Regions from separate parts of the Homo sapiens genome. Here region 2 is linked to region 1. The links come from fine-mapping of genetic effects on gene expression. A gene starts in region 1. The other region holds a variant in brackets. All regions are shown on one strand. Distances are between the middles of the regions. Region 1 holds the start of LINC02389 (long intergenic non-protein coding RNA 2389). Region 2 overlaps LINC02389 (long intergenic non-protein coding RNA 2389).

Region 1 (5,385 bases):
AATATTGTGACACAGATTACAGACAAGGATGTTTTTCTTAACGCATAAAAAACTCACAAATCAGTAAGAAAAAGGCTGGGTGTGGTGGCTCATGCCTCTAATCCCAGCACTCTGGGAGGCCGAGGCAGGCTGATCACGAGGTCAGGAGATCAAGACCATCCTGGCTAACATGGTGAAACCCCCATCTCTACTAAAAAAAAAATACAAAAATTAGCCAGGCGTGGTGGCGGGCACCTGTAGTCCCAGCTACACGGGAGGCTGAGGCAGGAGAATGGCATGAACCCGGGAGGCGGAGCTTGCAGTGAGCCGAGATCGCACCACTGCACTCCAGCCTGGGCAACAGAGTGAGACTCCATCTCAAAAAAAAAAAAAAAAAAACCAGTAAGAAAAAAAACAGCAAGAATGAGCAAAGCCTATGAACAAAGGACATATAAATAACTTTTAAATATATGTCAACCTTATGCATATTTTTCAAACATACATTAAGTACTCACCCAATCAGAAAAGATCAAAAAATTTGATAAGATTCTCAGTAATGTGGGGGTAGGAGGAATTGGGCACTTCCTTACATTGCTGATGGAAGCAGAAACTTATGGAACATCTGTGGAGAGCAATTTGGCAACATGTATCAAAATTTTAAATGTGCATTGTTGACAAGTAATTCCATGTCTTAGAATTTATTCTTTAGCTAACTTCCTTATTAGCAATATTACATCATATGTACAAGGATATGCATATTCCATAGATATGAAATTGGAAGCAAACAAATAATCTAATAATAGATTAGAGAATAAATGTATTGTGCACAGACCTGAAATGGAAATCTATGCAGCAGTAAAAAAGAACGAGGTGGCTCTACTTGCACTGTTCTGGAACAATCTCCATGGTACATAGTGAAAAAGGAAAGTTCAGAAGGTTATTGTGTTACTGCTTACGAAAGTGTGTGTGTGAGAATGTGCTTGAATATGCATAAAACATCTCTGAAAGGATACAAAAGAAAGGAGTAACATCGGTTTCCTGTGGGTAGAAGCTTTGAGTGGATAGGGGACAAGGGGTGGAGGGAGACCTAGTTTTCCTATGTGCTTTTTCGTACATGTTAAATTTTCACCTTGTGCAAATATTATCTACTTAAAGTACAAGTCTAAACAATAATTTTATAATGTTCTGCTCCTTAAAAACCTTTGAAAATCATTGAGCTACATGATGCCTAGGATTGCCATTAGTAATGTTTATTATTGTGATATAACCACTTTTTATTAAATAATATCATGATTCTGTAATTTGTTTCACACTTGACAAATGTACTAGAAATTCTGCTCCATAGCTATACATGCAACAAAAATCTTTACACTTTTCACCATCTGTTAAATTCTGTTGCATAGACATTTGTGGAGTTCATCACATACGTTATATGTAGCTCAACCTTCCCCAGACCTTAGCAACTTCTTGGTCCAGATAGGGTCCCTGCAGCAACAATGACTCAACACCGTTCTCACAGACATATTTTGAAACAGGGCCTATAAAGTCCTCCCATCCCCTTAACTGGGCAAGGTTTTCTTTTTATATGTATATATATATATTTTTTTTTATTATACTTTAAGTTCTAGGGTACATGTGCACAACGTGCAGGTTTGTTACATATGTATACATGTGCCATGTTGGTGTGCTGCACCCATTAACTCGTCATTTATATTAGGTATATCTCCTAATGCTATCCGGTTTTCTTGAAATCTTCAGGGGGTGCCTCTCATGTGTTCCCAAACAAGTATGCTCCCAGCAGGCACTCCCACGGCTCTGCTGAACACTGCAGGTCCCGTGAGACCCACTTTCTCACCCAGCCCTGCTGCTTCCCCGCAGACGCCATTAGAGATGCCCTAGAGCCCCCCCCCCCCCCCGCCCCCGACCCCCCGTGAGAAAGCTGCCGCTCACCTGGGGGAGATGGAGCGAATGCCACGCTCTGTTTCCATTGCGTTCTGTCAGACAAATCCCACAAATATGCTGCTTGGGCTCCCAGATTTTATGGAACTTGGTGACACAGCTCTTCTTGTTTTGCTCACAGTCACTCTGCCCTCAACAGGACTCCTCCGGGAATGCAGATGGAACCGGAATGGTAGACAAAACTGGGGAAAGACAATCACCTCTCCTTCTGTGATGAGAATATAAGACCAAAGAAGACTCAAAGGGCTTGAGGAAAGAACCATCTTCAGAAAACAAGAACCATGTTCCTTGACTCTGTCACCTCTCTACACCACCTATTATTATCATGGGAAGACGGAGCCAAAACTGAGAGAGCAGTTTAGGAGAGGTTTGAGTCACTGGAAAGTAAAAAATAATCCTGACTACTGTTCACTGATACAGCCACCATTTTGCCCTTATAATCTGTAATCTTCACAACACCTCTGTTTCAGTTAAGAGTTTTTCAACATGAGTGGTAGAAAATCTGACCAAACTGGCTAAACCCCAAAATTGGAATGTTAGCTGATATAGTAAATAAGCTGAGACAAATTGGCTTTGGGCGTGGCCTGATCCAGAGCTCACAGGCCCTGAAAGCAGCCTGCTTTCTCTCTGTTTCTCAGCTCTGCTTGCTGAGTGTTAACTCTTCTCCAACAAGCTCTCCCCTCATGGTTACAAGAGAGCTGCCAGCAACAACTCCTGGGCTTTTTCCTTCCAGGTTAAATTCTGTTGCATATTCATTTATGGAGTTAATCACATAAGCTATATGTAACCCAATTTTCCCCAAACTTTAGCAACTTAGGACCAAATCCAGTAGAAATGAGTGAGTCTGCTTACGTGAGAGTTCAAAACAAGAGCCTAGGAATTGAGCTTCTTTTCCTGTGGCTCATCCATGGGTCAGACACCATGGTGAGGAGGAGGAAGAGTGCTGAGTGTCTGAGCTCAGGCCCTGTGCTCCCTCCAGGGCCATCACTGTCACCGGAAGTACATGGGCAGAGGTGGAGGAGGGCTGGCTCCCCAAGCAAAATTAAGGCAATGTTGCCAAAGCATAGTAAATTCTGGGCAGCAAAGACGGCAATTGTCCACAACAAACCCTATGAGATTGAAATTATTCTCATTGTACAGATGTGGAAATTGAAGGTCTCAGATGTTAAGTAACTTGCCCCAAATCATATAGTGGCATAGATTGGATTTTACCTCATTAATGTGTGCGATGAGACCAAAAGGATAGGTAGGTATCTGCCAGGCAGACTGAAGCAAGGAGGGTGCTCGAAGCAAGGATTTATGAATACACAGCAGTATGAGGGCATTAGCGGAGTGGGGGGCCTTCAGGGAACTTGGAGTTATGGGCAAAGTTATAAGACAGTGTAGCAAAGGAAAAGCTCAGGCTCTGGTGTCAGATAGATCCAGATGTTATTTGCCAGCTAAATAGGTTGCAGTGAGCAGGTTGCAGTGAGCTGAGATTGCGCTACTGCACTCCAGCCTGGGCGACAGAGCAAGACCCTGTCTCAAAAACAAAAAAAAATTACTAAGGGAGGTTTGTTTGTTTTTTTGCTTTGTTTCACATTTTAATATAGATTTCTGGACTCTCCAGGGATAGAGAGATTCCTAGGTTGAGGTATCAGGAAGTTTCCTCCCAGAAAACTGTTGATCACATAGGGGAATTCATCCACCTCCTTCCAACTGGCCAAGGATGTAACTGCTCACTTCACCTTCATCATCTGTAATACAGTGCCAGTAAGCTTCACAGAGCTCTTGGGAGGAATAAGTGAGATAGCACAAAGGAGCTAGTATAGTGCTGAGCTCAAGGAGCTCCACCAATGGTTGATATTATGGTGCTGGTGAGGATAGGTTGCACGAGGTAATGAATGGGGAAGCTGTGGGAAAATAAGACGGAAAATTAACCATGGGTCAAATCATGCTAAGATAAGGATTTTAGCTTTTACCCTCCAGAAATTGAAGAAAGATTTTGACCAGAGGGATGGCCCAATTAGTTTTTCATTTTAGAAAGATCATTCTGGCAGCAGTGTATAGCCAAGCAGCAGAGAGGTGGGGTGGGCAGGGGGAGGGTCCAAAATGGATGGCAGTGAGACCAGTTAGGAGACCATTACAATACAGTCATGTGCCACACCACGTTTCAGTCAACGATGGACCTCATGTGCTATGGTGGTCCTGTGTGATTGTAATACTGTATTTTTACTGTACCTTTTCTAATATGTTTAGATACACAATTACCATTGTGTTACAACTGACTGCAGTGTTCGGCACAGTAACTTGCTATACAGGTTTGTAGCCTAGGAGCAATAGGCTACACCATATAGCCCAGGTGTGTAGTAGGCTATACCATCTAGGTTTGTGTGAGCACACTCCGTGATATTCGCACAATGTTGAAATTACCTAACAATTTCCCCATCGTTACCCCCGTCATCAGGTGATATATGGCTATAGTTAACTTGTTCAGTGGTTGCTAAACTTAGTTCAACGTTCAAATTACTAAGGAAGGCCAGGCACAGTGGCTCACATCTGTAATCCTAGCACTTTGGGAGGCCAAGGTGGGCGGATTGCTTGAGGCCAGGAGTTCAAGACCAGCCTGGTGGACATGATGAAACCCCATCTCTACTAAAAATAGAAAAATTAGCCGGGAATAGTGGTGCACACTTGGTAGTCCCAGCTACTTGGGAGACTGAGGCAGGAGAATCACTTGAACATGGGAGGCGGAGGCTGCAGTGAGCCAAGATTGTGCCACTGCACCCCAGCCTCGACAACAGAGTGAGACCCTGTCTCAAAAAGAAAACAATTACTAAGGAGGTTTTTTTTTATTTTTTGCTTTGTTTCATGTTTTAATATAGATTCCTGGACTCTCCAGGGATAGGGAGATTCCTAGGCTGAGGTATCAGGAAGTTTCTTCCCAGAAAACTGTTGGTCCCATAGGAGAATTGATCCACCTCCTTCCCAGTGATCAGCATTGCCTAAAGGAAAACTAGAATTGTTATAGCAAGGATGTAAACACTAAGAAACAAGTGAACTTTCTGGTTTTTTAATGTTAAAACAACAACAACTCTTGAAGCCCCTGGGGCACAGGTTGGTGTAGCTAGATAAAGATTGCCTGGGATGGAAGGGATGGAGAGAATGGAATCAAGTGACACTTTGCAGGTCATTTGGTCTCACCAGAGCAAACGACCAGGAAGGAAGCAACCTTCAACGTGATGGTATTTGAAGGCGGGGCCATTGGGAGGTAATTAGGTTTAGATGACACCAGGAGGATGGGACCCTCATGATGAGGTTAGTGCCCTTATCAGAAGAGGAAGAGACCAAAACATACTCCCTTTCTCCATTGTGTGAGGACACAGTGAGAAGGTAGCCATCTGCAAACCAGGAAGAGGGCCCTTCCTCACCAGATACCAAATTTGCAGACACGTTGATCTTTGACTT
Region 2 (5,385 bases), 68 kb before region 1:
ACTACGAGTAGATTCTTGAGCCTGTTCCAGAAAGGCACAGCATGACTGAAATGGTTGCTGAAGAATAGAGGACAGGGGAAACGATCCAAAATAATAGTAACAGGTACTCCATGAGTTGAAACTTGTGACTTGTCTTTGTTTTTAGTTTCTATCTTGTGGAAAATTTTGCTGTTTTCACTCTGTCACAGAACAGATGGAACCATGATTTATGATTCACAGTTTATGAAGCTGATGTAATATTCTACCACACTTTGTGACCCATCATGTTTCCCACATTTGCAATATTTTTCTTCTGGGACACTTGTCACAAAGGGATCACTGAGATGTTGGGATGAGAGTGGTTCAGCCATTATAAAATAGGGAAACTAGTGATATCACAAGGGTCATTCATGTATCCAACAAATATTTATTTGGCCCCTTAATGTGCCAGGTACTGCTCTAGGGACTAAGGATCCAATGGACAAGTCAGATAGGTCTTTACTCTGTGAAGCAGAAAAATAATAAACAAGTAAATAAGCAAACAAATGACAAGATCATTGTATAGAAGTTCTTTGGAGAAAATAAAAATGAGGTAATGTTATAAAGAGTGACTGAAGGCAGACAACATTGAATAGGTTGGTTGGCCAGGCATGGTGGCTCACGCCTGTAATCCCAGCACTTTGGCAGTCCAAGGTGGACAGATCACTTGAGGTCAGGAGTTCAAGACCAGCCTTGGCAACATGGTGAAACCCTGTCTCTACTAAAAAAAAAAAATACAAAAATTAGCTGGGCATGGTGGTGGGCACCTGTAATCCCAGCTACTCAGGAGGCTGAGGCAGGAGAATCGCCTGAACCCAGGAGGCAGACGTTGCAGTGATCTAAGATCATGCCACTGCACTCCAGCCTAGGTGACAGAGTGAGACTCCATCTGAAATAAATAAATAGGGTGGTCAAGGAATGCCTCCCTCAGAGGTGTCATCACAGCTGATGCTTAAATGATGAGAAGAAACTGGTTCTTCAAAAGTCGTAAGGAAGTGTGTTCCAGATAGAGGGAACAGAAAGTACAAAGCCAGGAAGAAGTTTGGGATGCACAAATGCAGACTCAAGGCAAGTGGGTTGTATTCACCAACCCATCTTTGTATCCCCCCCACCCCTGCTTTCATCCAGCTGTTGATGCTGATACCACTGGGGTCATGAGCCAGGATGTTGGCTTTATGCTGTTTAGTGCATCAAATTAAATACTTCCTGGCTCCAATTCAGAAGCTTTAGTGTGGCTCTGGTGGTATTCTGTTTCCTATTTCACACTACAGTTCACAAGAAGTCGACTAGCAGAGCAATCCCAAGGGAATACCAGCCTTGAAACATGGGAAACAACCCAAACATGAATGGCAAAAGATCAGTAAGAGGTGGTGGTGATTTTCCTCCAATTAAATTTGTTTGTAAGGAAAAAATCTATTGTTTTCTAGGTAAATCTGATGATATAGTCACAGCAAAAGTATAGTATATTCATGGCAACACATTTTATGAACTATTATTCCAGTATCTATGTGAAGCAATAAATTATTTGAATTACACTGTACACTCTTCACTAGTACTCTAAGTCCATCATTTCTTATCTACAATTCTGGAAAAAAAAATTTATTTTGAGACAAGATCTCACTATGTTGCCCAGGTTGGTCTTGAACTCCTAGGGCTCAAGTGATCCTCCCATCTCAGCCTTCCAAGTTGTTAGGACTACAAGCTACAATTCTGAAATGTTTTTAAAAATTTGAAAACTAAGTATTTTTCACATTGCATAATGTGCAAAAGCAAACTTATGCTCATGAATTTCAGGGTATTTTCATAATTTTAATCTTAACACAACCACCCTCAGTGGGCCTGCCAATATTTTAATGAGTAAATGGTCAAGAGATAAAAAAAAAATGGCTAACTAGGCAGTACAAGATAGTGAGCTAGGCTTAGCTTCTCTTACTGATGTATATTATATCCATTGTAATTGTCCACCAAATTCTAACTTGCACAAGAAAAGAACACGGTAAATGTACAGTGTATTCATGACAACACACTGTGAACTTTTATCCCAGTGTCTATGTGAAGCAATAAATTATTTGGGCCATAGGTATGTCCTAGTAGCTATTGTATCCCCAGCACATAGCAGTAACTGGCACATAGTAGACATTCAGCAAATATTTATTGAATAGTTGGTCCATTGTTAATACTTGGCCACAATGATGCCCACTGCACTTGCTGTCTTAAATGACAACTACACATCAAATCCTGATGCAGTTTCTTCTGAGTTTTCTGCTGATTCAAGGTCAGGATATCCTTCAAACAGATGTTTGCCATTCCTGAGGCTCGCATGACATTCTGATGGCAAAAAGAAGCTGGTTTCCTGCCAAAGCCCAATTTATACTTTCTGGAGAGTCTGCTAGCTCTATTTTTCTAAATAAACACTCAATTGAACAGTCCCGTGACTCTCTGATCCAAATAAATACTTTGAATCATTAACAGTCTCCACCAGCAACGCTAATGAATTTGAATTCATTTTTAGTCTCTTTCTACTCAGATCTTATCCCCTTCTTTTTTTGCCCTCCACAGCTTCCACAAAGACTCTTATGAGCATCCTTTTGATCCTCATGTTTGTTCTTCTATTGACTGAGCCAAGAGCATCAGCAGGAACTACAGCCTTCCCAGATGCTGTGGCTATAGCTCCTTCCCTTTCTATCTCATTCTGCGGCAGGTCCAGGAAAGTAAAGCTCTGCTAGCACAGTTTCCCATAGATGAACCACAACAGTCACTTACTCCTTTGAGCTGAGAGGAGATGAGAGCTCTGTCTGCTATAGTTAACCTGCCTTGACAAAGAACTTAAGCTTAGCTCTGAAAGCCAGGGACCAAGGAGCCATGCAGAATACAGAGGATAAAAAGGGGTACATTTGATATGTTGTATGATCTATAAAATAGCACATCTGGGTGTTTATTTAACTGACAACCAACAGATAAATTTTTAAGACAATTAAGGGCATTAGAAAACATGATTCCCACTATATAGATTCTTAAGTGAGTGGGGTTGAGAAATATTTTCAGGTTTAACAGTAAATATGTGCTGGGTTCTTTGAATCTTATTTTTTTTAAAGTGCAGAAAACTTAGAAAGTACAACAAAGCATTTTAAAAAGAAACAATTTCTGCCTCTCAAGCTACAGATAATGTCTTTTTTCTTTTTCAAAAAATACAATTTTTAGGCTAGCCTGAAAAAAAAAAATCTGTATGGACCCCAAAGGTCTCCTTG[T/A]GAATGAAAATGCTGCTAACGGGAGTTTTGTGTTATGTGTGGGCACTCAGAGTTTTCAAGAAGACCATGAAGGAAAGTTTTCAACTGCTGAGGGCTCCAGACTCCCTGAGAGAGGGGAAAAGGAAACCTTTGGGGTTGATGATCAGAGCTTCACGCCTCAAACACTTGAACAATCTTGCCTCATTTCCTGAACCTGAACTTATTCATAAGTTGGGGTGCTTCTCTAGAACTCTAGCAAGCTAGTTATGAAACTGAATTATCATAGGAATATTTCCACTGGAAGGTTGGTGGAAAGCCCTGTCACTTAAGGAGGCAAAAAATGTCCTTCCATTTTGATCTGTAAAGAACCCTTAGCCAAGCTTGGAAGGATCATGGTGCTTTCTGGAGCCATGGCAGCATAGATGGGGTTCGAAGGTTTGTATACCTCCAGTGTTTGTGCTATATAGGCAGGCATGAGACTAGGAAGCAGGTCACATATATGCAGAGCAGCAAGCTCAAGCACTGGCTCAAGCAGACTGGAAATAGAAACGCCAACCAAGGTTGTATAGGAAATGTGGGCAGAAGTGGTTAGAGGCCCAGGAAATTTCTTTCCAGCCTATTCCAAATGTACAGTGGCAGGAACAAGTATAGGACCTCCCTTCATATAGAAAGATAAAGAGAGTGTCACACATTAGCATGCCAGGGAGGCTGGACAAGGCTACTCTGCTTTGTGGAGCTGTGCCTTGTAAGAGAAACTCCTAGAATCAGAGCCCTGCAGAAGCAGCAACCACCAGTGATAGGGAAGATGGCTGGAGCCGGGGCAGAGCCAAGAGGAAGCAGCAGCAGCAGCAGCAGCCACATGGAAACCATGGGGAAAACAGAAACCAGAGGGAAGGAGCGTAGCCCTCCCTGGCCACACACATGGGTAGGTTGCAATAGGCCAATAAGGCTAGCGGGTAGTGGGCTGGTGGAGTGGATTGGATCACAATTCCCAGTCACAATAATAAAAACCAGTAGGGGATTGATCCCATGTGTGACTATGGCTGATGTGACTTGAGAATGAAAAAGAGTTTCTTGAGGGAAAATGTTTGGTTCCAGAACAGGAAGGCCACCTGTACCAAAGATAAATACTGATACTTTCCACATCCCTAATTCCAAGACTATTCTTTAAATCCCATCAGCTCACCTGGAACTTCTGTGGTCCCCACTGCCTGCCCAATGTGACAGTCAGCAGAAGCTTAGCTCCAAACCCATGCCTGTGAGGTTGGACTCCAGACTTGATGGAGTATACGTATCCAATGGCAACTCAAAGGGGAAATATTAAGAGTGACAAAAAGGAGATTCTCCAACCAGGGACTATTATCTTCATGCCTCTTGGATATTGCTTATTAAACCAAAAGGTAACTGACCCAAAGAAAATAACCCATCCCATCCTTCTCTCACGATACTCGACTTTTATACCCTTAAATGAAGGATGCTCTAAGTACAGCCAGAGTTTGGATGTAGGGGAGTGTGTGTGTGTGTGTGTGTGTGTGTGTGTGTGTGTGTGTGTGTGTGTGGCATAAGCAGCTGAGACTAGGAAGCAGGTGACATATGCACAGCATCAAGCCCCAAATCTGGCACTGACTCAAGCAGATTGGAAGTAGAAACGCCAAGCCAGGTTGTATAGGAAATGTGGGCAGAAGAAGTGATTAGAGGCCCAGGAAATGTCCTTCCAGCCTATTCCAAATGTACAGTGGTATGAACAAGTATAGGACTTCTCTTCATATAGAAAGATAAAGAGAACGTCACACACTAGCATGCCGGGGGGCAGGACAAGGCCGCTGTGCTGTGTGGGGTTGGGCCCTGTGAGAAAACCTCCTGGAGTGGGAGCTTAGACTACACAGCCAGGGGCTTCAGGACAGCAAGATGATAGAAGGCCAAGCTGGGTGCAGGAATGAATGAACATAGGAAAAGAGGCCATTGAGAAGGATGCTGAAGGATACCTTTGGTCGCAGACTGCTTCCTGAAATCCCAGGCCTATCTGCAGGTCTCGTGTGTCTCAACAGGACACCTCAACAATTTACGGCTCCAGGATCTTGGGACAGAGGTCCATAGCTCAGAAGGTAATGGTTACCATGACAAAAAATTCACCATCAAC

The links. PIP is the estimated chance that this variant, and not a neighbour inherited with it, causes the effect. A credible set is the group of variants that fine-mapping cannot tell apart.
Region 2: its variant is the best candidate, but not a certain one, in a credible set for the expression of LINC02389 in prefrontal cortex (ROSMAP, PIP 0.74).

Annotation. Positions count from the first base shown.
Region 1 is chr12:64,880,410-64,885,794 of GRCh38, reverse strand. LINC02389 (long intergenic non-protein coding RNA 2389) reads right to left here and starts at 2,021. Exons shown (of 3, transcript NR_033988.1): 1 at 1,930-2,021. It overlaps TBC1D30 (TBC1 domain family member 30), which reads right to left. Exons shown (of 12, transcript NM_015279.2): 12 at 4,762-5,385.
Region 2 is chr12:64,947,994-64,953,378 of GRCh38, reverse strand. The region is part of intron 2 of LINC02389 (long intergenic non-protein coding RNA 2389); the gene reads right to left. The region is part of intron 3 of LINC02231 (long intergenic non-protein coding RNA 2231); the gene reads left to right. Among named protein-coding and RNA genes, the nearest start is that of LINC02231, 42 kb to the left of the region's middle. The variant T/A (reference allele first, on the strand shown) is at 3,267.